3 separate regions of the Homo sapiens genome follow, and regions 1 and 3 are each linked to region 2. Evidence: fine-mapped expression QTL. A gene starts in region 2. Each other region holds a variant in brackets. All regions are shown on one strand. Distances are from middle to middle. Region 1 holds the start of CWC25 (CWC25 spliceosome associated protein). Region 2 holds the start of PIP4K2B (phosphatidylinositol-5-phosphate 4-kinase type 2 beta). Region 3 overlaps PSMB3 (proteasome 20S subunit beta 3).

Region 1 (8,178 bases), 24 kb before region 2:
CACCGAGCCCAGCCTGTTTCTTTCTTTCTTTCTGTTTTTTTTGAGACAAAGTCTCACTCTTGTCGCCCAGGCTATAGTGCAGTGGTGCCATCTTGGCTCACAGCAACCTCCACCTCCTAGGGTCAAGTGATTCTCTTGTGTCAGCCTCCCAAGTAGCTGGGATTACAGGCACCCGCCACCACGCCCGGCTAATTTTTGTATTTTTAGTAGGATGGGGTTTTTCCATGTTGGCCAGGCTGGTCTCAAACTCCCAACATCAGGTGATCCACCCACCTGCCTCGGCCTCCCAAAGTGCTGGGATTACAGGAGTGAGCCACCGCGCCCGGGCAATAAGTATTTTTAAAAAGCCATAAGAACTAATAAGTGAATTTAGCAAGCCTGTAAAATAGAAGGTTACTATACAAAAGCACGTTCTTATCTATTAGTAGCAAACAATTGGAAAATTAAAATTTTTAAATTTTATTTAAAATAGCATCACAGGCCGGGTGCCTGTAATCCTTGCATTTTGGGAGGCCAAGGTAGGCGGATCACCTGAGGTCAGGGGTTCCAGACCAGCCTGGCCAACACGGTGAAATCCCATCTTTACTACAAACACAAAAATCAGTAGGTCGTGGTGGCGTATGCCTGTAATCCCAGCTACTCGGGAGGCTGAGGCAGGAGAATCGCTTGAACCCAGGAGGCGGAGGTTGCAGTGAGCTGGTATTGCGCCACTGTACTCCAGCCTGGGCAACAGAGTGAGATTCCGTCTCGAAATAAATAAATAAATAAATAAATAAATAAATAAATAAATAAATAAATAAATAAATAAAATAGCATCACAAAAAATACAACATTTAGAATAAATTTAACAAAAGATGTGCAAAACTTCTATTCTGAAAATTACAAAACAGGTCGGGCGCAGTGGCTCACACCTGTAATCCCAGCACTTTAGGAGGCCGAGGTAGGAGGATTGCTTGAGTCCAGGAGTTTGAGACAAGCCTGGGTAAGATGGCAAAACCCTGTTGCTACAAAAATAAAAATAGCCAGGCGCGGTGGCTTATGTCTGTAATCCCAACACTTTGGGAGGCTGAGGCGGGGAGATCACTTGAGGTCGAAATTCGAGACAAGCCTGAGCAACATGGTGAAACCCTGTCTCTACAAAAAATACAAAAATTAGCCGGGCGGGTGGCGGGCGCCTGTAATCCCAGCGACTTGGGAGGCTGAGGCAGGAGAATTGCTGTCCGGGAGGCGGAGGTTGCAGTCAGCTTCGACCGCAGCCTGGGAGAGCAAAACTCCTTCTCAAAAAACAAAAACAAAGGGAGAAGAAGAAAAAGAAAAAGAAAAAAGAAAAACATGCCAAAAACACATAGTAACTGAAGGGAAAGGAATCTGCCAGCTTCCCACTATGGGAAAATCTGCCACTGTGGAAGCTGGCAGATTTTAAAAGTTTGGCAAACGGAAGCTGATGGAATTTCGATTTGATGGTTTCTATTTAGCTTCGTAAAATAGGCCTGGCATAAGGGGATTTGCTGTGAGTCAAGGTCTGAGGAAAGCGCCAGTTTGCAAAGCCGTTTTGGAAAACTGGAGCGTGGGGGTGTGTGCAGGGTGAGGGGAGGAGGCCTAGTCTGGTCCACCTTAGGTCTAGCAGAGACTACGTGGAGCTTTGAGCCGAATGCCCTGGTGAGCTGCCATGGCAACACAGCCGTGGGCACAGGCCCACGGCAACCCATCACTGAACAGAGTTGTGGCGTTTCAACAGAGAGTCTGGGACATCAGGCAACGTGGCGACCCGAAGCAGCCAAAATGAGACCTCGACAGCAAAGGCCTCGACAGCGGAGCCCGGACCTTTGCAAAATCTGCAAGTAACGCCAACGTCACAAAGCGCGACCGAGCCCTGTACGTCATCGTTCCGCGACGCCGACGCGGTGAGATGACGCCCTCCCGGAAGTGACCTCTAGAGCGGTGGTGAAACTGGCAGTTGACGGCTCCTGGGACTAGATCCCGCGAGGTAGCCCCCGAACTATTTCTCTACGTTTTCTCTTGATCCTCCCGAAATCTTCCAGATCCGCGTAGTGAGGAATCGTCTCCACCGTCATGGGGGGCGGAGACCTGGTGAGTGGAGGGAGGCCTGGGCGGGGGAGGACTGAGGCCGGGACGGAAATTGGCAGGGGGTGGGGGTAGAGGAAGGAGTGGATAACCATGGCAACGCAGCTTTGCTTTCGCCGGGAGGAGGCCGTTGCCCTGAAGAGGGGATGGATCCTTAGGGCAATGGAGGGGTGGGACTGAGATTTGGGAAAGTCCGAGGTGTGTCGCGAACAGTGACAGGTGGTGTTTGCGTGTTTGTTGACTGCGGCTCTACCGGCTGTAAATTCTGGGAAGACCGGGGAGGGGGCGGATGGAGCCATGGCTAGGAAAGGAGGTAGATATGGAGGACGTGTCACCACACTTTGTTTTGTATATCTTGTCTTGCCACACACCTCTCTTCCTTGGGTGAGAGTTCAGAGTCATGTCCTGGACTGAAGTAGGGGTGGTTTGTGCCCCATTCTCCCTACCCTAAGCCATGCCCTGGGGTCGTTTTTTATTTTTTATTTTTTTGAGACGGAGTTTCTTGTTGCCCAGGCTGGAGTGCCATGGCGCGATCTCGGCTGACCGCAACCTTTCCCTCCTGGGTTCAAGCGATTCTCCTGCCTCAGCCTCCCGAGTAGCTGGGATTACAGGCATGCGCCACCACACCCGGCTAATTTTGTATTTTTAGTAGAGACAGGGTTTCTCCATGTTGGTCAGGCTGGTCTCGATCTGCCGACCTCAAGTGATCCGCCCGCCTCGGCCTCCCAGAGTGCTAGGATTACAAGGGTTAGCCACAGCGCCCGGCCCTGGGGTCCTTTTTAAGCCTGAAGGGATCTTCCTGTCCATCTTTCTGACTTCCACACCTCCTTCAGTGCTGGATTCTGATCTGTAGTGGCAGAGCTTGCTTTTGAATTCATACCACTTAATATAAGTTATGTGGCAATGTCTCTTAAACTGAAACGTTCATTTGTAAAGCGCTAAGGCCCCAAATAGGGTAAATGTACCCACAAGAGCATGGGGCAAGGTTGGGAAAATGCTAGCCTCCGGAAAGTGGAGCTAATTGAACCAGCAAGTAGATCAGCTTAGCCGCCTGCCCAGTAAACCTATTAGTTTGTCATGTGTTCTCAATCACAGTGAGTGCCAGGACTCCATCTAGTTTCATCCAATTTAGTGTATTCTTCACATAACTGCATTTAAGGACAGGAAAGCTCTAATCCAGGGTTTCTCAACATTAGCGCTCT[T/C]GACAGTTTGGCCTAGATAATTCTTTGGGGGTGTGTGGTAGTGGTGGTAGTTGGGCTGTCCTGTGCATTGTAGAATGTTTAGCAGCATCACTGGCCTCTAGCCACTAGACTGGAGCTATCCACTAACACCCGTCTCCACCAGTTGTGACAGCCAAAAATGACTCCAGAAGATTTTCTCCCTGGGGAGCAAAATAATCTATGCTTGAGGCAGGGAGGACAAGATGGGAAGGGTTAGAGGGAGAAAGAGGGAGGGAGTGAGGGAGGAAGGACGGAAGGATGGACGGATGGTCAGACCAACTGACGGACTGACCCACAACCAACCAACTGAATGACCTGACGAAGGGGAGAGGCAGGACAAGGAGGGGAAGAGAAAAGGAAGAAAAGGGAGCTCTCATTGACCGAACATTTTCCACATGCCAAGTACCTTGTGGACATGATCTTATTTTCTTAATTGGTCTCCTGGTCCTCTCCAGTCCATTCTCTTTTCTTTTTTTTTTTTTAAGATGGAGTCTCAGCCAGGTGCAGTGGCTCATGCCTGTAATCCCAGCACTTTGGGAGGCAGAGGCGGGTGGGTCACGAGGTCAGGATTTGAGACCAGCTTGGCCAAGATGGTGAAACCCCGTCTCTACTAAAAATACAAAAATTAGCTGGGAGCAGTGGCGGGCGCCTGTAATCCCAGCTACTTGGGAGGCTGAGGCAGGAGAATCGCTTGAACCCAGGAGGTGGAGGTTGCAGTGAGCCAAGATTGCACCACTGCACTCTAGCCTGCGTGACAGAGCAAGACCTCGTCTCAAAAAAAAAAAAAAAAAAGTTAAAAAAAAAGTTGGAGTCAGGCTGGGTGTGGTGGCTCACACCTGTAATCCTAGCACTTTGGGAGGCCAAGGCGGGCAGATCATGAGGTCAGGAGATCGAGACCATCATGGCTAACACGGTGAAACCCGTCTCTACTAAAAATACAAAAAAAATTAGCTGGGCATGGTGGCGGATGTCTGTAGTCCCAGCTACTCAGGAGGCTGAGGCAGGAGAATGGCGTGAACCTGGAAGGTGGAGCTTGCAGTGAGCCAAGATTGCGCCACTGCACTCCAGCCTGGGCGACATCTCAAAAAAAAAAAAAAAAAATTGGCCAGGCGTGGCGGCGCATGCCTGTAATCCCTTTACATGGCTTATAAGGCCCTTATTCTGCTCCTTTCTCACTTGGCTTCTTCTTGCGTCCCTGCACCATCAGCTTGCCACATCTCCAGCCACACTGAATTATTGCTATGTTCTTTCTCACCACCAGGACTGCACTTGTCTGTACTGTTCCCCTCTGTTTGGAAATCTACCCCCCTCATCTCCCCTTCACACATCACCAGGCTAGTTTACAATTGTCTTTAGATATTACTTACTTTGGGGAACATTTCATTATTGGGAAAGTGAACCAAAGCAGTATCTGATGGGGAGGAGAGAGAGAAGTGTTCTTTGAGGGTGAATGGGGAGATCAGAACCAAGGAGAGATTCCTGGGAAGGAAAGTTGAAAGAGATTCTGGGTGGGTTGTAAACCATGCAAGTTTAGGGCAGGTGAAGTAGACCAAGCTAAGGTAGGTTGAGTTCCAAAGAATGAATGTCCATGCCAGGCACGGTAGCTCATGCCTGTAATCCCAGCACTTTGAGAGGCCAAGGCAGGCGGATCACCTGAGGTCGAGAGTTTGAGACCAGCCTGACCAACATAGAGAAACCCCATCTCTACTAAAAATACAAAATTAGCCGAGTGTGGTGGCGCATGCCTGTAATCCCAGCTACTCAGGAGGCTGAGGCAGGAGAATCATTTGAACCCAGGAGGCAGAGTTTGCCGTGACCCGAGATCCTGCCATTGTACTCCAGCCTAGGCAAGAAGAGTGAAACTCCGTCTCAAGAAACAAAAAAGGCTGGGCACGGTGGCTCACCCCTGTAATCCCAGCAGTTTGGGAGGCCACTGCGGGCAGATCATGAGGTCAGGCGTTTGAGACCAGCCTGGCCAATGTGGTGAAACCCCATCTCTACTAAAAAATACAAAAATTAGCCAGGCATGGTGGCACGTGCCTATAGTCCAGCTACTCAGGAGGCTGAGGCAGGAGAATTGCTGGCACCCGGGAGGCGGAGGGTGCAGTCAGCCGAGATAGCTGCACTCCAGCCTGGGTGACAGAGTAAGACTTTAAAAAAAAAAAAAAAAGAATGAATGTCCACTGTCAGAAGTGCATGAGTTCTGTTCTCTTTCAAAATATGTGCCTTCCTGCTCATTACTGCATTCCTCCTGTCTTGTCATCACCAACTCTGATTTAGGTATGGCTAGTGGAAGGATGACTTGTATGCTTTTAAGGTTAAAACTGTTTGAAGGGAATTCAGGAAGGACCCGTTCTATCCTGAAGCTTTCTTGTTCTTGTTCTTGTTGTTTTGAGACGGAGTCTTGCTCTGTCGCCCAGGCTGTAGTGCAGCAGCGCAGTTTCGGCTCACCGCAACCTCCGCCTCTTGGTTCAAGCGATTCTCCTGCCTCAGCCTGCTGAATAGCCGGGACTACAGGCGCACCTGCCACCACGCCCAGCTAATTTTTGTATTTTCAGTAGAGGCGTTTCATCATGTTGGCCAGGCTGGTCTAAAACTCCTGACCTCAAGTGATCTTCCCGCCTCCGCCTCCCAAAGTGCTGGGATTACAGGTGTGAGCCACTGCGCCCGACCTGTCCTGAAGCTTTATACACTTGAACAAGCTCCCCTTCCCCTCTAGATGTGTGAGAGATTATTGGAAGAAAACCTTGCCATTGTTGAAGACATCTTGCCCTCACACGCCTGCCTTGGGTATGGAAGGGTGGGTGAGGCAGGGCTAGTTATACCCACCACTCAGTCACCCCCCGAATTATCATCACCTTCTTTTTATTTACCACAGAATCTGAAGAAGAGCTGGCACCCGCAGACCCTCAGGAATGTGGAGAAAGTGTGGAAGGCCGAGCAGAAGCATGAGGCTGAGCGGAAGAAGATTGAGGAGCTTCAGCGGGAGCTGCGAGAAGAGAGAGCCCGGGAAGAGATGCAGCGCTATGCGGAGGATGTTGGGGCCGTCAAGTAAGTGAGGAGCTGGGGGTGCGCTTGTGTGTAGGGAATTGCAGAGCTGTCCTGAGATGCATCATCCAGTGTTGTATAATGGCTGAGTGCTTAAGGGCATGGGTTGTAATGCCAGACTCACCTGGATTCTAAGGTTGGCTTTGCATGTACTAGCTGTGGAACTGTGATCAAATTTGAGAGACTTGGTTACTTCAGTAGGACCAGGGAGTAATAATACCCAACGCCTTCTTAAGGTTTGTTGAGAATCAAATGAGATAACACGTAAGGACTTGCTGTAAGCCGAGCTCACAGTAGATGGCTGATAACCGTGATGGAGGATGGTTGCTCTACCCTGCTTCTCAGCATATGTTGAGGATGCAGTCCTGCCTTTGTTAATGTATTTCAGGCTTGCTTGGGTCGGCGGGGACAGGGGGCAGGGAGTGAGGTCCCATGAGAGAAGGTGGATGGTATGCTTGTCAATAAAAGCTGAGTGATTACGGCCAATGCCACTAGATTTTACCCTGCTTCAATTTCCTGTTGTATAATATAGGATACGAGTAGCAGATAATAACTACCCCATCCATCTCATAAAAGGAGATGGGAGTAAATATGTTTGAGAAAATAAAAAGCATACAATATGCAGTGTATTCTTAAGTCAGAATAAAATAAAATAACAGATAGACTAAAACTGGGGACTAGGTGCGGTGGTTCATGCCTGTAATTGCTGTATTTTGGGAGGCTGAGAAATCACTTGAGCCCAGGAGTTTGAGACCAGTCTGGGTAATGTAGTGAGGCTCCATCTCTGTTTAAAAATATATAGGCTGAGTGTGGCGGCTTATGCCTATAATCCCAGCACTTTGGGAGACTGAGGCAGGCAGATCACTTGAGGCCAGGAGTTCTAGACCAGTCTGTAGTAGGAACCCATCTCTACAAAACAATAGAAAAAAATTAGCCAGGCACGATGGCTTACGCCTGTAATCCCAGCACTTTGGAAGGCCGAGGCGGGCAGATCACTTGAGGTCAGGAGTTCGAGACCAGCCTGACCAACATGGTAAAACCCTGTCTCTATTAAAATACAAAAATTAGCTGGGTGTGGCGGTAATCCCAGCTACTCAGGAGGCCGAGGCAGGAGAATTGCTTGAACCCGGGAGGCAGAAGTTTCAGTGAGCTGAGATCATGCCACTGCACTCCAGCCTGGGCGACAGATTGAGACTCCATCTCAAAAAAACGAACAAACAAAAAAAAAATAGAGGCTGGGTGCAGTGGCTCACGCCTGTAATCTAGCACTTTGGGAGGCCGAGGTGGGCGGATCACCTGACGTCAGGATTTCGAGACCAGCCTGGCCAACACGGTGAAACCCCATCTCTACTAAAAAAAAAAAAAAAAAATTAACTGGGCGTGGTAGCATGCATTTGTAGTCCTAGCTACTCGGGAAGCTAAGGCAGGAGAATCGCTTGAACCCAGAAGGTGGAGGTTGCAGTGAGCTGAGATTGCGCCAGTGTACTCCAGCCTGGCGACAGAGCGAGACTCCGTCTCAAAAAAAAAAAACCAAAAATTAGCCAGGCATGGTGGCACATGCCTGTAATCCCAGCTACTCGGGAGGCTGAGGCAGGAGAATCACTTGAACTCAGGAGTTGGAAGTTTTAGTGAGCTGAGATCACGCCATTGCACTCCAGCCTGGGTGACAGAGTAAGACTTCGTCTCAAAAAAAAAAAAAGAAAGAAAGGAAAAGTTAGCTGGGCATGGTGGCATGTGCCTGTAGTCCCAGCTACTTGGGAGGCTGAGGTAGGAGGATTGCTTGAGCCCAGGAGTTCGAGGCTACAGTGAGCTATGATTTTGCCAC
Region 2 (8,178 bases):
AGTCTCCAATGGGTAGTTAGATGGTAGATGTTAACAGTTACATGGATAACCTAGTCTTCTGTTCTTCTGTCAATTGTTGAGCAAACCATTGGGATATAATTGCTACAAGTTTAGGTTCCTGATGAGTTCCCAATTTATTTCATATTTCATATTTCAGAATAATCACTCTAGAGATTACTGAGTGAGATTATGGAATACTTTACTAAAAGCCTTTGAAATTTGGATGAAACCTCCTGACCAGGACGTTAGAAGGGAACTCAGGCTGGCCTTGCACTTGGAGAGAGCAGTGAACTGGAGAGCTTGGGGTCCCACCTGGCTTCTGTGCTTCTTGTGCTGCTTCTGGTTTTTTTGCTGGAAGAGACCTGATCGTATGGTTTCTGTGCTCAACAGAAAACTCTCTGCAGAGGAATTAGAGCGAAAACGGCAAGAGATGATGGAAAACGCCAAATGGAGGGAGGAGGAGAGACTGAACATCCTCAAGAGGCATGCTAAGGATGAGGAACGGGAGCAGAGGCTAGAGAAGCTGGACTCCCGGGATGGGAAGTTCATCCAGTGAGTGCATCTTCTTCCTGCCAGGGTCTTTCATGGGGAAGGTCTTAAGAGGCAGGCTGGCAGCTGGTTCCCGTTCCAGTGTTTCTGTGTTTGCACATGGAGCCCAGCCTTCAGACCACCTTGGCTACTACTCTTCCTTTCTGACCACACAGTGGGATGTTTTTCATTTGAGGGGAGGAGAAGTGAATTTGGTATTTTCTAAATCATTGAAATTCCTTGACCTTCCTTTTTAATAAGAATTCATGGCCCAGGAAGCCTTTTTCCAATGAGGCTTTGACTTATTTTCCAAAACAGATACATTTTCCCTTATGGACACTGGTTTAAAAACATTTGGTTCCAGGTGGAGTCACTCGAAAGTTATCTATGGGAGCTTAAAAGAGGTTGTGTTTTTACAGCTGCTCTATGGCTAACAACCCATTTCTTCTGAAGCTGCCAGAATAGTTGACTGATTGAAAATGTTTTTGACTTGCATTTGCCTGTCTTCTCTTCCTAGCCGCATGAAGCTGGAGAGTGCATCTACTTCCTCCCTGGAGGATCGGGTGAAGCGGAATATCTACTCTTTACAGAGAACTTCGGTAGCTCTGGAGAAGAACTTTATGAAAAGATGAAAACTGTCCCCTCTCTTATTGGTTTTCCTGCATTTTCCAGGGAAGCTGCTGACCCCTTAATTCTCTTTATAAGAGTTCAAATGACTTCTTTCACAGATGTCAAACCACCAGTGTTCAAAGTGACCCTGCTTCATTGAGTCCTGAAACAGCTCACTTCCTTTGAGAGCTAGTGTGACTTGCTTTGTGGGACACTCAGTAACTTTGGGTTTTGACTCTTTAACGGGTGGGCACTGGACCATCTCGGTGGGAGTGCTTGTGCCACTCTGGAAGGCTGTTCCCTGGGGTTGTGATGTTTATCATGCCACTTCCTTCTTACCTGTGCCAACAGACCTATTTCACTGCCTCAGCGTACACCAGACCCTTCAGAAACCTCTCTGGTGTCACCCAGATAGATTGTGCTTACTGAGACAAATGAACGTTTACTTGATTTAGAAGATAATGTGACAGAATGATGTCAGGTTAGGTCAAAGCCAAGGGAGTGACAGAATCTGGAAAATCAAACAATACAAAAAGCCCTAAATGAACTGTTAACTATTTGATCTTTGGATGTAAAATTGTAATGCGTATATGTACAAATGTACAATTTTTACATGCTTTTAAAAAAGGTTAGCTTTGTGAAAATACCTTGTTTGGTCAATGACTTTACTGGGTAATAGAACCACATTGAACCTTGATGGCAAGTAATACAATAAGGCAGGCCAGCTCGTTTTTCTCTCTGAATCTGGCTGGTTTAGGAGGAGCCTGGGTTTATCGACGAGATCTGGAGTATCTATTCTTTTCCACTGCTTGCAGTCTCCAATGTAGGCAGTGTAAAGGTATAGTAAAATGATTTTAGGAGTCAGAACCAAATTGCCAATATGCTCCATGGCTCCTAAAGGAAAATAAAATGGAAGTTTTTATTTTGCGGCTTCACTTCTTACCGTGTAGTAACCTTACTACAATTACAGATTTTCAGGAGTTGTTTGCTAGTCTCTTTCAGTCAGGTACTAAAAAAAAAACAAAAAACAGGCTGGGCGCGGTGGCTCACACCTGTAATCTCAGCACTTTGGGAGGCTGAGGTGGGCGGATCACGAGGTCAGGAGATCGAGACCATCCTGGCGAACACGGTGAAACCCCGTCTCTACTAAAAAAATACAAAAAATTAGCCGGGCGTGGTGGCGGGCGCCTGTAGTCCCAGCTACTCGGGAGGCTGAGGCAGGAGAATGGCGTGAACCCAGGAGGCGGAGCTTGCAGTGAGCCGAGATTGTGCCACCGCACTCCAGCCTGGGTGACAGAGCGAGATTCCGTCTCAAAAAACAACAGCAACAAAACAAAACCCTCGAGGGGCCACTCTCCTGTCTTTACTCCTTTTCCCTTCTCTATTCTTTCACCAGAAGCCCTCATTTGACCAGTGAACTCCTAGGCCCTCTTGACCCGCACATTAGCTGGGCGATTTCCTTGTTCTGCTAATTCCTAATTCTGCTTAAAATGTATTTGGATTTCTGTTTTTGAACACTTATGATGCCAGGCACTGTAATGCTTGAAACCCGATCTTTCCCTAGAGAATGTAACATACGTTTTTATTCATTTAATCACTTCATTATGCCGGGGTTAATTATGTTTATTTTATAATTGGTAATAAAGGCCACATTTATTTTTGTAACTGTTTAAAGAGCGACCACCTGTGGAGTACCGTGTTTACGAATTTCCATGCAGAAAGAACAACGTTGACCTGTAATTTGTGTCGAATATATGGAGATCCCTCATCTGAGAATTATGTAACAAAGCGTGGGGCAGTTTACTCAAAGATTTTACGAAATGAGCCAGAGTAAGACGATTAGTGGGATAGGTGTCTGAAGGTGCTGGCGGCCTCTGAGCTCTGACCCTTTGCGGGGAGAACAGGCAGCAGGTGGGTGGGCGCGGGGCCCATTCATAAAAACCAGTGTTCCTGGCCTGCTTCTCTCATTGGCCCTGGGGGCAAGGGGCGTGCCCCGCGGGTGGAGCGCGCCCGGGGCCCAGCAGAGTGGGCAGATCCACGCTTAGGTGGAGCGAGGGGGCGTTCCTTGGCTTTCTAGGCTGGACTTTCTCTTCCCCTTGCTGCGTCCCTCCTCTCCCCCGGGGTGGGCATGGTACGTCCCGCCCTCCTCGCATTCCCGTCCCTCCTTCCCTTCCGGAGCGGTGGCATCGCCGCCATCTTGGCATTCGGGTTGCGGGAAAGAGCCAAACCCTGGCGTTGGGGGGCCCGGGCGGGGAGCCCCTCCCGCGGTCCACAGCGACGCCTGCCCAGCCCTCCTCCCCTTCCGGCTCCGGCACGGGGCCCCGAGGCGTTCGGAGGCCAGGCGGGTTTCTGTCAGGCCCGGGGAGGAGGGGCGGGCGGGGCGGCCGCTGCCTCCCCGGGACGGGCCGTACCACGCGGACGGGGAGGACGGGGCCAGGGGACTGCAGGGCGGCTGCACCGCCCGGGGGCGGGGTGCGGAGCGGGCCGGCGGGCTCCCCGGGGCGGGGCGGGAGGGCGGGGCGTGGGGCGGACGGAACCACCGGGGCGGGGTGGGAGGTAACGGGACGGGCGCGACCATGGCGCGGTGAGGGAGCGGGGGTGGGGATCGGTCCGGGGGAGGCCTGAGGCCGCTGGCTTGTGCGCTGTCTCCGCCGCCCCCCTCTTTCGCCGCCGCCGCCGCCGCCCCGGGCATGTCGTCCAACTGCACCAGCACCACGGCGGTGGCGGTGGCGCCGCTCAGCGCCAGCAAGACCAAGACCAAGAAGAAGCATTTCGTGTGCCAGAAAGTGAAGCTATTCCGGGCCAGCGAGCCGATCCTCAGCGTCCTGATGTGGGGGGTGAACCACACGGTAACCAGCTCCTGCGCGCCCCTCTGAGCGCGGCCCCGCGCGCTCCCACGCCCCCTGCAGCCCTGGGCCCTTGCCCCGCAGGCCCTGCCGGTGACGCCTGCCACCCCTCGCCAAGCCACTTGCACGCCCACCCCACCCTTGCACGCCTTTCGGCCCCGTGTGCACTCCCCGCACGCCACGCGAGGCCTGGTGTCTCTGTGGTCTGCCGTCGCCACCTCCCCTTCCCTCCAGCCCTTCTGGCTTCCTGCGTGTGGCGTGCTCGCTTGGGGCAGCCCATGGAGCGCAAAGGCAAGGCCTCAGTGCAGTGGAGTCGCTTTCATCCCTGCTTCTCCTCCTCCCCCCTCATCCTGTTTGTGAGGGTGTATATTCCCCCTTGTTCCTTACAGCCGGCTGCCAGCTCTGTCAAGTAGCAGTGGTCTGCCCAAATAGTCCTCTCTTTCTGATCGTTTGGTTGTTGTGGCTGCTCAAATTCTTCCATCCTCCAGGCCTCCTTACCTTTGAATGTAGAACTCCACCCTGGGTTTCCTTTTTTTTCCCTCTTGAACAAGATGTATCAACTGGAGAAGCACAGGCTTCCTTGAACCAGACACTTCACCTGGGTCTCTCTGGGTTAGGGAGAAGAAAGAATGGCTATTAACCATTTGAGAGAAGAGGATGCCTGGTTATAAGGAGGGACTATTCATAGTAGAAATAATATGTCTTCCCATAGTTTTTGAAGGTGATCATTTTAAAGATGTTGACTTATCTGTTGTGTGGCTGCAATGTTGTGATGATGCATAGTGATTATGGTCCTAGATAGGAGAGATAGGTCCCCTGGGTCCTTAGGGTGCTTTGAGATTGTTCAACAGCCCCTGCCAGGAAGTTGGATCCTGACAGTTTAAGCTGGAAGACTGTTTATGTGGTGTTTGTTCAGGGTCTTTATTCTCCCTCTTCCAACCACTTGCTCTTTGCCTTCTGACCATTTCTTTATGAATCCCCACACTAGGAATGAGCAGAGGAAGTAAAAGGACCCGAAACACCAACTTCACTAACTAGAATTTTGGAATAAGGAGGATCAAGCTTGGGTTTCCTGTGGATTTCAGTTCTTTAGGTTCACTTGTGAGTGCTTGAAATTGCTCACAAGACCAAGCGATGACAAAGAGGGCCAGCAAGACTTTGCATTGCTTTGGCAGAGGAGCTGAAGGTGCCTTTGGGTGGAGATCGATGAACCGTAATCTGAGCTAGGGTTTTAGATCTTGACCTGTCATTTAGGAAAGTGCATGTGTAAATTGAGGTCTCTGTGGTTTCTTGGTCTTGGGCAGGTTACTGTTTTCACTGTCATCACTGGTGTTAGTGAGGGTCCTGCCAGGATAGCGAGTACCAGTGGTATAATGCCCAGACCTCTAGGAGCTGCTTCGGGCCAACAATCCAGCCCAGTTTGTTACTCGGTCTTCCTGCTGTCCCAGGGGTCATCTGACAACATTTCTAGGGAAACTGGGTGATCAGAATATGAACCCCATGTCCCTTTCTGGAAGTCAATCCTTGATTTTGTTCTGCATCCTGCTTCTCACTCTACCAGGCCTCTCTCTGCTGGTTCTGTTTCTCACAGAAAGCAACCTGTCTGTAGAGAACTGGTAGAGGCCTGAGAGTCAGGAGTATTACAGCTAGCTGCAATGAACCTTGGGTCCCTTATTTTACACATGAAGAAAAGGAGGCCTCAGGTGGAGGATTAGCTTGCCTGTGGTTACAGCAAGAGATGTCGCTTATTGTCTAGCACCATGGGACTGTATCGGCCAAGGGTGGTGCCTGAGTGGCTGGTCTTGTTTTCTTTGCCTCCTGTTTCTTTTCCTCTCCCTCAGCCAAGTCTCAGGATAGATGCGAAGTATAGTCCGGTTAGAGAAGGTGAATATATGCTCTGGGTTATACGCCTATGCATGTCAGGTCCTGGGAGTGTGTGTGATGCATGGTGTTCCGATAGGCAGGCATGAGTCTGTCCATATGTGGTTATGAAGTTTCTCAATAGCTGATGGTTAGGTATCACGAGTCAGGAGTCCTGTGAGTCCTACTCTGTTGGACAAAGTGGTCATCTTTTTTCTTTGCTAACTTTAAGTTGAAAGTTTGTTTGAGGGGCTAGTTGGAAAGGCATTGACTTTAAGCAAGATCCGTGCCTCTGGACATAATGAACAGGCATCTCATGGGAACTTCCCACCACTGCCCTGGACAGGCTAAGCTTCAGAGGCCAGTTAGTCGTAAGTTTTATTGCTTCATCCTGGTCTGCAGTAAGGTCTGATACTTCAGTGTCCCCATTTGGGAACTGAGACATCTGCCTAGAAGAAGAGTGTAATCTTGCACTCGTCTAAGGGATCAGGACCACATTGCCCTCGGTGGACTGCTGCACTTTTTTGGAGATTTCCTCCCTTCAAAAAAAGCCTACTTTGTAACATTTTGTCATCTGAGATTTCAGATACCACCTTTTCTTTAGTTTCTCACCTGTTTAGGCATTTAGGCATGCTGGTCTGTGGCTAATGGTGTTTCAGATAGGAAGGATGGATATGTCTTTATCTACAGCAGAAGTTAGTTACCCTTTCATGAGGTGATTAGTTTACTTCTAGGTGGAAAAAGAGAGGACTTTGAACTTGGTGTTGTCACAGGAGCTGCTCTCATGGACAAGAGCCCATGGATTTTGTGGAGGAAGAATGTGTAGGAAACAAGGAGAAAAATCAGAAGACTTTGCACCTGTCAGGGAAGAACTAGTGAAGAGCAAAAACCAGTGTTTTAGTGGATGAAATACAGTTCCGAGGGTTTGGAATTAGGGAAGAGATGGCCTCAGAGAGGAGCATGGAGACCATGGGAGGTAGACCTGACTTGATACTTGTTGGCCATTTTAAGAACCAGGTATGTGTGAAGCCTTACCACAGGGATCAGAGGAGCAGGAGCAGTTGATGGTGACTCTGTATTTAACCATTTGAGAAACTGCCAAACTGTTCTCTAAAGTGGCTGTACCATTTTACATGTCTACCAGCAGTGTATAAGAGTTCCAGTATCTGCATCCTTGTCAACACTTGTTATTGTCTTTTTAAAGTTATTAAAGCCATTCTGTTGGGTGTGAATTCGTATCTCATTGTGATTTTGTTTGTTTGTTTGTTTTTGTGATGGAGTCTCACTCCGTCACCCAGGCTGGAGTGCAGTGGTGCAATCTCGGCTCACCGCAACCTCCACCTCCCGGGTTCAAGCAATTCTCCTGCTTCAGCCTCCTCAGTAGCTGGGATTACAGATGCCTGCCACCACACGTGGCTAATTTTTTTATTTTAGTAGAGACAAGGTTTCACCATGTCGGCCAGGCTTGTCTCAAACTCCTGACCTCAGGTGATCCACCTGCCTCGGCCTCCCAAAGTGCTGGGATTACAGGCATGAGCCATCGCACCCGGCCTCATTGTGACTTTGATTGGCATTTCTGTGATAACTAATGATGTTGAGCATTTTTTCATGTACTTACTGGCCATTTGTACATATTCTTTTCTTTTTTTTTTTTTCTTGAGACAGAGTCTTGCTCTGTCGCCCAGGCTGGAGTTTAGTGCCACAATCTCAGTTCACTGTAACCTCCGCCTCCTTGGTTCAAGCGATTCTCCTGCCTCAGCCTCCCAAGTACCTCGGATTACAGGTGCCTGCCACCACACCCAGCTAACTTTTGTATTCTTAGTAGATATGGAGTTTTACCATGTTGTCCAGGCTGATCTCAAACTCCTAACCTCAGGTGATCCACCTGCCTTGGCTTCCCAGAGTGCTGGGATTACAGGTGTGAGCCACTGTGCCTGGCCTGTACATTTTCTTTTTGTTGTTGTTGTAGAGACAGGGTCTCGCTTTGTTGCCGAGGCTGGTCCTGAACTCCTGGCCTCAAGTGGTCCTCCCGCCTTGGCCTCCCAAAGGACTGGGATTGCAGGCATGAGCCACATCCCCAGCCTTCATTGGTATCTTTTCTTTGGAGAATGTCTATTAAATTTTTTGCCCATTTACAAAGATCTTTTTGCCCATTATTAAATTGGGTTATCTTCTTATTATTGAGTTACAAGAATTCTTTTTATATTCTAGATACAGGTCCCTTATCAGATATATGATTTGCAAATATTTTATCCTATTCATTGAGTTGTCTTTTTCATTTTTCTTTTTTTTTTTTTTTTTTTTTTTTTGAGATGGAGTTTTGCTCTGTCGCCCT
Region 3 (8,156 bases), 39 kb after region 2:
TCCTGGTGGTGATTTTGTCCTTCTCGCTGCAGAGGGAGAAAATCACAAGAAAACATCTCTACCCATCTGGACCGTGACTGTGACTAGCTCTCCTGGCCCTCAGCACCAAGCCCTCAAGCCCTGCGGCAAGGGAGCAGAACAAATAGCTGCCCGCTGCCTCTAGGTGTAACTATCCTGCTCTAGTTCATTCCTGCTAGCTCATCTCCTCCGCCTGTGGTGAGGAAGGAGGGATAGGAACAGAGACCTGGGCCGACTTTCCACAGGTGGAACCACCTCAGGGAGGCTTTCCCAGAAAATGATTCAGGGCCAGACTTCACAGCTCTCAAAAGAAGGGAAGGAGCTTGGCCGGGCGCGGTGGCTCATGCTTGCAATCCCAGCACTTTGGGAGGCCTGAGGCAGGCGGATCACGAGGTCAGGAGTTCAAGACCAGCCTGACCAACATGGTGAAACCCCGTCTCTACTAAAAATACAAAAATTAGCTGGGCATGGTGGCACGTGCCTGTAATCCCAGCTACTCAGGAGGCTGAGGCAGGAGAATCACTTGAACCCAGGAGGCAGAGGTTTGCAGTGAGCTGAGATAGTGCCATTGCACTCCAGCCTGGGCGACAGAATGAGACTCCATCTCAAAAAAAAAAAAAAAAAAAAAAGGGGGAAGAAGCTCCTCCAAGCCTAGAGAACAAGCCACTTAGGAAGGAGAAGGTGTGGTGTGTTTCACCCCAAAGAACATAAAAAAAAACCGTCGGTGGTAAATTCTGTTTTTTGGGTTTTTTGTTTTTGTTTTTGTTTTTTTTGAGACAGAGTCTCACTGTGTTGCCCAGGCTGGAGTGCAATGGCGTGATCTTGACTAACTGCAACCTCTGCCTCCCAGGTTCAAGCAATTCTCCTTCCTCAGCCTCCCTAGTAGCTGGGATTACAGGCACGTGACACCACGTCTGGCTAATTTTATGTATCTTTAGTAGAAACGGGGTTTCGCCATGTTAGGCTGGTCTCAGACTCCTGACCTCAAGTGATCTGCCCACCTCAGCCTCCCAAAGTGCTGGGATTACAGGCGTGAGCCAACGCGCCTGGCCAAATACTATTTCACGGTAATTAAGCAGGCTATCCCCCAAAAGGGTCCAAATGCTTATCCTGCAATGTAGGAAAGTGGTTGGAAGGATACCTCCTACTCTATCCAATCAGGTTCCTGGTGATGGCCCCAAACAAGTAAAAGGACAAGGAGGATGGCACTTAGGGAGTTGGCTGAGGCTTGGAAATTGGTCTCTAGAGCTCAGAACATCACACAGATCTGGGCTGGAGAGAGGATGCGAGCCACCTAGAATTTCAATCCATCTGCAGTAGCTTTGTTGTGGCTCACCCCAACACGGATCCCTGAGACTTCGGAGACATTGTTAAGGAAGAAATGTCTCTTGTGAGCACGGGGTCACAGAACCTCACCTGACAAGAGGCCAGAGGAAGCTGGGTAGGCTGCCAGTTACCAGCCATAGGGAGGCATGGACTTTTGCTCACCCAGGACTGCCAAAAGCACCTTTCTTATCTCACACCTGACCAGGGGGCTGGGAAAATGGGGTGTATGCTCGTGGAGAAGGGAGAGAGGCAGGGTGTCTGCAGAGCTTCTAGACTTCTCCCAGCCCATACTCACATGATGTGGACAATGACTCCCATGCCTGACACTGCATCCCGGTCCACAGCATTCAGCATGGCTTGGGAGATGGTTTCAAACAGGTGATCCGGATCCTGCCAACAGAGTGGAACCCCTTCAAACCACAGCCTCTGGCTCTGATTTGGTCTGGTCCCTTAACTCTCTTTTTTCTAGGCTCAAGATTCCCAGCTCTGGCCCCAAGACATGCCTGAAGTAAGGGATGATTCCCAGGATGTGGGAAGCCCCTCTCAGCTCCTTCCTTGGAAGGAAGCAGAATTATGTAAAGGAAAGTGAAAGAGACTTCAAGCCCTGAATTTCTTTTACTAATCAGCAGTGTGACATTGGGCAAATAGTATGTCTCTCTTCACTGAGCCTCAGTTTCTCTGTAAAATAGGGAGAAGAATCCCTATTTAGCTCCAGTGTGCTTTAGCAGCTGTCTGATGGGCTCTGATCCTGGATATCTTAACAGGTACCTCAAAACCCAACCTGTCCAACCACAAACCCACTTCCCCCAAACCTGTTCCTTCTACATTCTGTCTTGGCTAGCCTAGCTGGAGAACCCAGCCATCCTCTGTCTCTACATCCTTCGCTTCTGTTTTAAGTGACTAAGTCCCCTTGACAGCTGCCTTCCTGCCTCCCCACTGCCACTGTCTTTGCTCAGGACCTCAGCGCCTCCTGCAGGCGGTAACAGCCTGTCACGTCCACCTAAAGGCACCTGATTCCCTAGGTTCCTATGGCAGAGGACAGAGTTCAAACTCCTTGGCATGGCATTCAAGGCCCTTTGAGGTCTCATCTCAGTCTCCAGCATCATTTCTCCCCATGTTTAACCCACACTCCAGCCAGGCTCAGCTCTCCAGTCACTGAGCATACCTGCCCCTTCCTGTACCTTTGCCCCCAGACCCTTTCTTTCCTCCTCTTCCCAACAAACTGCAGTTCAACAGGTATTTGGATGTGTCTTGCTTCACTGGACTGCAGTGGGCCCTTGAAAGCAGACTGTACCTGCTTTCCCCAGTGGCCGGAAGAGCTGGCACTTAATAACGACAGCCGACCCTCGCCGTCAAGCACTATCTCATCTCTTCTCACTTGTTTTTGTGCTCGCTTCGGCAGCACATATACTCATTTGTTTTCCTCAGCACCACTTTTTTTTTTTTTTTTTTGAGACGGAGTTTAGCTCTTGTTGCCCAGGCTGGAGTGCAATGGCACGATCTTTGTTCACCGCAACCTCCGCCTCCCAGGCTCAAGCGATTCTCCTCAGCCTCCCGAGTAGCTGGGATTACAGGCATGCACCACCATGCCCGGCTAATTTAACTTTTTTTTTAGTAGAGACGGGGTTTCTCCATGTTGGTCAGGCTGGTCCTGAGCTCCAAACCTCAGGTGATCTGCTTGCCTCAGCCTCCCAAAGTGCTGGGATTACAGGCGTGAGCCACCGCGCCCGGCTTCCTCAGCACCACTTCTAAGGCAGACTTTTTTATCCTCATTTTACAGTCAAGGTAGTGGAGGCAGAGAGGGAAACTGGCTTCTCCAAGAACAATAACTAAGGTGGTGGGTGGATCCAGGTTGCCAACCCAGACAACCTGTTGAGCTGCCTCTAACCCTACACTGAGTTAAATGTTTGCTCAGTGAATGGATGCGAGAACCCTGTAAACCCAATGTAAGGAATTCTTACTGCTGTGGCAAATATCTAACTGTGGTCTCCTAACAGAAGATGCTCTCCTCTGGAGCCAGCCAGCCAGCCTGGCAGATGGAATTTCTGGATACCCTTCCAAGGAGCAGCAGCTGTGGCTTTCTCTCCCACCTGCACCATTCTCCCCATTACCTGCCACATAAACACACTTTTTTCCTAATGACCAAGGGTGGGTAACTCAGAGCCCAGCCCCTCTCCATGCCACCAACGTACCATGTTGGGCTCCCAGAGGGACTCACACATTCCGTACATTTGTTCGGCGCAGGTGCCACTGACCACAAAGTCATCAGTCACCATGGGGCAGCCGATGAGGTCTAGAGAGCAAATGAAGGGCTTAAAGGTCTTCGGGTCCAACCCGGCAATGACTGGCTCAGTGTAGTAAGGGCCAAACCTGTGGGGGCCAGCATCAGAGAGAGAAACCAGAACTCAAGAACGCTCGCTTTCATGTTTAAGCCTATTCAGACAAGGCCCCGGCCTAGACCCAGACCCAAAGGGAAATGGAGGACCTGTTTAGGAAGATCACCTTTCCCTGAGGCCAGCTCCCTCTCCCTTCTCCTGCCAGCTAGAAATATTCTAAGACTTTTCCACTTTCTTTTCTTCAACACTTACCTTTCTATCCTTCTCACCTCTGACCCTCTTGTGCTCCTTCTTTCTTTCAGAATTGTTTTCTTCTAATCCTCCCTCTCCTCACCCAAGGTCCTACCATCACTCAGTCCTCTATGTGTATGTTTATACCTCTACTCCTTTAGAGAAAAGATTGGAGGCAGTTTATATGAAAAACACTGAAAAATAAAACTAAACCATTAAAACATAATACAAGATAACTCAGACTGAACACAAAGTTTTGTTTTGAGCCCCCTAGCAGGCAAGGCAAAGAGGGATACTCAGTGGCTGGGTTACTCTCATTGTCAAAAGGAAATGGCAGCTCATCAGAAACTTGTTCTAGACACTGATCTTTAAGAAAAATCAGTCTTGGGCCAGGCGCGGTGGCTCACACCTGTAATCTCAGCACTTTGGGAGGCCGAGGTGGGTGGATCACCAGGTCAGGAGATCGAGACCTTCCTGGCTAACACGGTGAAACCCCCTCTCTACTAAATATACAAAAAAAAATTAGCTGGGCATGGTGGCGGGTGACTATAGTCCCAGCTACTCAGGAGGCTGAGGCAGGAGAATGGCATGAACCC[G/A]GGAGGCGGAGCTTGCAGTGAGCCGAGATCGCGCCACTGCACTCCAGCCTGAGCGACAGAGCGAGACTCCATCTCAGAAAAAAAGAAAAGAAAAGAAAAAAAAAAAAGAAAAATCAGTCTTAGGGATCTTTATGTACAGATGATGGTCCCTGACTTATGATGGTTCAACTTAAAATTTTTCAACTTTATGATGGTGCAAAAGCAACAGGCATTCAGTGGAAACTATGCTTTGAAATTTGATCTTTTCCCAGGCTAGCAATTTGTGGTACCAAACCCACTCCTGATGCTGGGCAGTGACAATGAGCCGCAGCTCCCAGTCAGCCACACAATCACCAGAGGAAACAACAGATACTTTACACTGTTCTGCTGTGAGCAATTTTTGGATATAGTGTTTTGTGTATTTGCATCCTATGTCTACAAAATACCCATTTCAACTTACAATATTTTAAACTTATAACAGTTTATAAGGTAAGGAATATCTATAAAATACCAAATAACAAATGGCCAATATCCTCAGTAGAAAGAGTCAGTAAAAGAGACGTTATCCATATGTCTTATTGGATCACAGTCATTTCTTTCTTTCTTTCTTTTTTTGAGACAGTCTTGCTCTGTCGCCCAGGCTGGAGTGCAGTGGTGCGATCTTGGCTCACTGCAAGCTCTGCCTCCTGGGTTCGAGCCATTCTCCTGCCTCAGCCTCCTGAGTAGCTGGGACTACAGGTGCCCGCCACCATGCCCAGCTAATGTTTTGTATTTTTAGTACAGACGGGGTTTCACCGTGTTAGCCAGGATGGTCTCAATCTCCTGACCTTGTGATCCACCCACCTCGGCCTCCCAAAGTGCTGGGATTACAGGCGTGAGCCAATGCTCCAGGCCTGGATCACAGTCATTTCTAAGGGCATGATCTTCAGTTATAGCTCTAAATAGAAACACACACACATACACACGCACAGTTCAAGATTACAGGCATGAGCCACCATGAAAATAACTTTTTTAGGCCAGGCATGATGGCTGACGTTTGTAATCTCAGCACTTAGGGAGGAGGCCAAGGCTGGAGGACTGCTTGAGCCTAGGCATTCAAGACCAACCTGGGCAACAAAGTGAGACCCCTGTCTCTACAAAAAAATTTAAAAATTAGCCAGGCATGGTGGCATGCACCTATGGTCCCAGCTACTTGGGAGGCTGAGGCAGGAGGATTGCTTGCACCCAGGAGGCAAAGGTTGCAGTGAGCCATGATCGCACCACTGCACTCCAGCCTGGGCGAAAGAGTGAAACTCTCAAAAAAATAATAATAATAAAATAAAAAATAAAAATAATAAAATAAATGTCTTACTCTTATTGAAAAGAAAAAAAATACATTAGGTGACCTGAAAAATTCTGGATTCTTAGCTACTATTGACGGGAGCTTCCTCTATGAGCCCATCTGAAATCAGTGATTTTTCTGGCAGGACAGGCTGAGGCATTGAACTGCAAACCTGAGCAATGTCCAGACCCTTTTTAAAATCTGGACCCCAGAGATACCATCTACGCACCTCTGTCTGAAACACTGCAGTAAAAGTTACTTCAGATGGTAACTCGGCATCAGCATAATAGGAAGTTCAAACACAGGCCCTGAGCTGTGTTATAGTATTTGGTTTTAAGGTTCTTATCCAGATAATCCCAGATATTATTAACTTTTTTTTTCGTTGGCTGGGCGCAGTGGTTCATGCTTGTAATCCCAGCACTTTGGGAGGCTGAGGTGGGCGGATCATGAGGTCATGAGTTTGAGACCAGCCTGGCCAACATGATGAAACCTTGTCTCTACTAAAAATTAAAAAATTAGCCAGGTGCAGTGGCAGGCGCCTATAATCCCAGCTACTCAGGAGGCTGAGGCAAGTTGCTCACAGCAACCTCCACCACCCAGGTTCAAGCGATTCTCCTGCCTCAGCTTCCCAAGTAGCTGGGATTACCGGTGTGTGCCACCACGCCCAGCTAATTTTTGCATTTTTATTAGAGATGGGGTTTCACCATGTTGACCAGGATGGTCTTGATCTCCTGACCTCGTGATCCGCCCACCTTGGCCTCCCAAAGTGCTGGGATTACAGGCATGAGCCACCACGCCCGACCTATTTTTTATTTCTTTTGAGACTAAGTCTCACTCTGTCACCAAGGCTGGAGTACAGTGGCATGATCTTGGCTCACTACAACCTCTGCCTCCCAAGTTCAACAATTCTCATGCTTCAGCTTCCCGAGTGGCTGGGATTACAGGCGTGCACCACCACACCCAGCTAATTTTTGTATTTTTAGTAGAGATGAGGTTTCACCATGTTGACCAGGCTGGTCTCGAACTCCTGACCTCAAGTGATCCACCTTCCTTGGCCTCCCAAAGTACTGGGATTACAGGCATGAGCCACCACGCCCAGCAAGCCATTTAATATACATCCAAATATGAGTTAATTGTTACAACTTTATAAGACTTTTTGCAGGGCGCAGTGGCTCATGCCTGTAATCCCAGCACTTTGAGAAGCGGAGGCAGTAGATCAGTTGAGGTCAGGAGTTCAAGACCAGCCCGACCAGCGTGGTGAAACCTTGTCTCTACTAAAAAAAAAAAAAAAAAAAAAAAAAAATTAGCCAGGTGTGATGGCACACACCTGTAATCCCAGCTACTCAGGAGGCTGAGGCAGGAAAATCACTTGGACCCGGGAGGTGGAGATTGCAGTGAGCCGTGATTGCACACCAGGGCGACAGAGCAAGACACCATCTCAAAAAAAAAAAAAGAAAAAGTTTTTGAAAGCTAAAGGGTATTTTTACAAATTACAAAAATTACTTCAAAATAAAAAGTTAAAAGAAAAGAAAAAAAAAGAGATCAGGCCAGGCATGGTGGCTCATGCCTATAATAGGACTTTGGGAGGCCAAGGTAGGTGGATCACCTGAGGTCAGGAGTTCGAGACCAGCCTGACCCACATGTTGAAACTCTGTCTCTACTGAAAATACAAAAATTAGCCGGGTGTGGTGATATGGACCTGTGGTCCCAGCTACATGGCAGGCTGAGGCAGAAGAATCGATTGAACCTGGGAGGTGGAGGTTGCAGTGAGCCGAGATCACGCCACTGCACTCCAGCCTGGGTGACAGAGCAAGACTCCGTCTCAAAAAAAAAAGAAAAAGAGAGCTCAACTTATATTCTGGCCACCCAGGTTTGCCCAGAGGTAGAAAGCACCCACAGGGTTTCCTTTCAATTCCATCCTAGATTTCTGCACTAAATTCTACAGTTAGGCCCCTTGTTTCTCACCATAAAGCCCTCAAGGAGAACTGACGAAAATGAACACCCCATTCCTAGGCTCCCTGCTATTCCCAAGAAGCCAGTGCTGACAGAATAGCTCTAGGGCAAGAGTGGCTCCTGCTGGGAGACCCCAGAACACTCTGGTGGGACTAACTCTTTTGCCTAGATGCAAATTTATCTGCTATGTGCATTCCTTGCCTTCTTCCAACATAAGTATTTTCTTTCCTATCTGGTTGCCAGACAGGCCCAAAGAAAACACACCCATAAAATAAGGATATTATCCTGCAAATAAGAGATGGAAAAACAAGGAGAGTCCTCTTCCTCAGTACCTACTCCATACTACATTCAAAGATGTCTGCATTCCCTCAGTGCTAGCTACACTTGCACTCACCG

The links. PIP is the estimated chance that this variant, and not a neighbour inherited with it, causes the effect.
Region 1: its variant is fine-mapped to the expression of PIP4K2B in whole blood (TOPMed, PIP 0.98). The same link has a PIP of 0.9 or more in thyroid and tibial nerve.
Region 3: its variant is fine-mapped to the expression of PIP4K2B in esophagus muscle (GTEx, PIP 0.91).

The regions. Positions count from the first base shown.
Region 1 is chr17:38,819,079-38,827,256 of GRCh38, reverse strand. CWC25 (CWC25 spliceosome associated protein) reads left to right here and starts at 1,936. Exons shown (of 10, transcript NM_017748.5): 1 at 1,936-2,091; 2 at 6,184-6,356. The coding sequence starts at 2,074. MIR4727 (microRNA 4727) reads right to left here and starts at 1,419; the gene lies at 1,365-1,419. RefSeq lists an enhancer at 2,597-3,228. The variant T/C (reference allele first, on the strand shown) is at 3,288.
Region 2 is chr17:38,795,074-38,803,251 of GRCh38, reverse strand. PIP4K2B (phosphatidylinositol-5-phosphate 4-kinase type 2 beta) reads left to right here and starts at 3,696. Exons shown (of 10, transcript NM_003559.5): 1 at 3,696-3,986. The coding sequence starts at 3,828. It overlaps CWC25 (CWC25 spliceosome associated protein), which reads left to right. Exons shown (of 10, transcript NM_017748.5): 9 at 391-552; 10 at 1,046-2,811. The coding sequence ends at 1,160. RefSeq lists an enhancer at 3,701-4,519.
Region 3 is chr17:38,755,989-38,764,144 of GRCh38, reverse strand. It overlaps PSMB3 (proteasome 20S subunit beta 3), which reads right to left. Exons shown (of 6, transcript NM_002795.4): 3 at 8,155-8,156; 4 at 3,537-3,714; 5 at 1,640-1,734; 6 at 1-26. Among named protein-coding and RNA genes, the nearest start is that of PSMB3, 7.3 kb to the right of the region's middle. The variant G/A (reference allele first, on the strand shown) is at 4,508.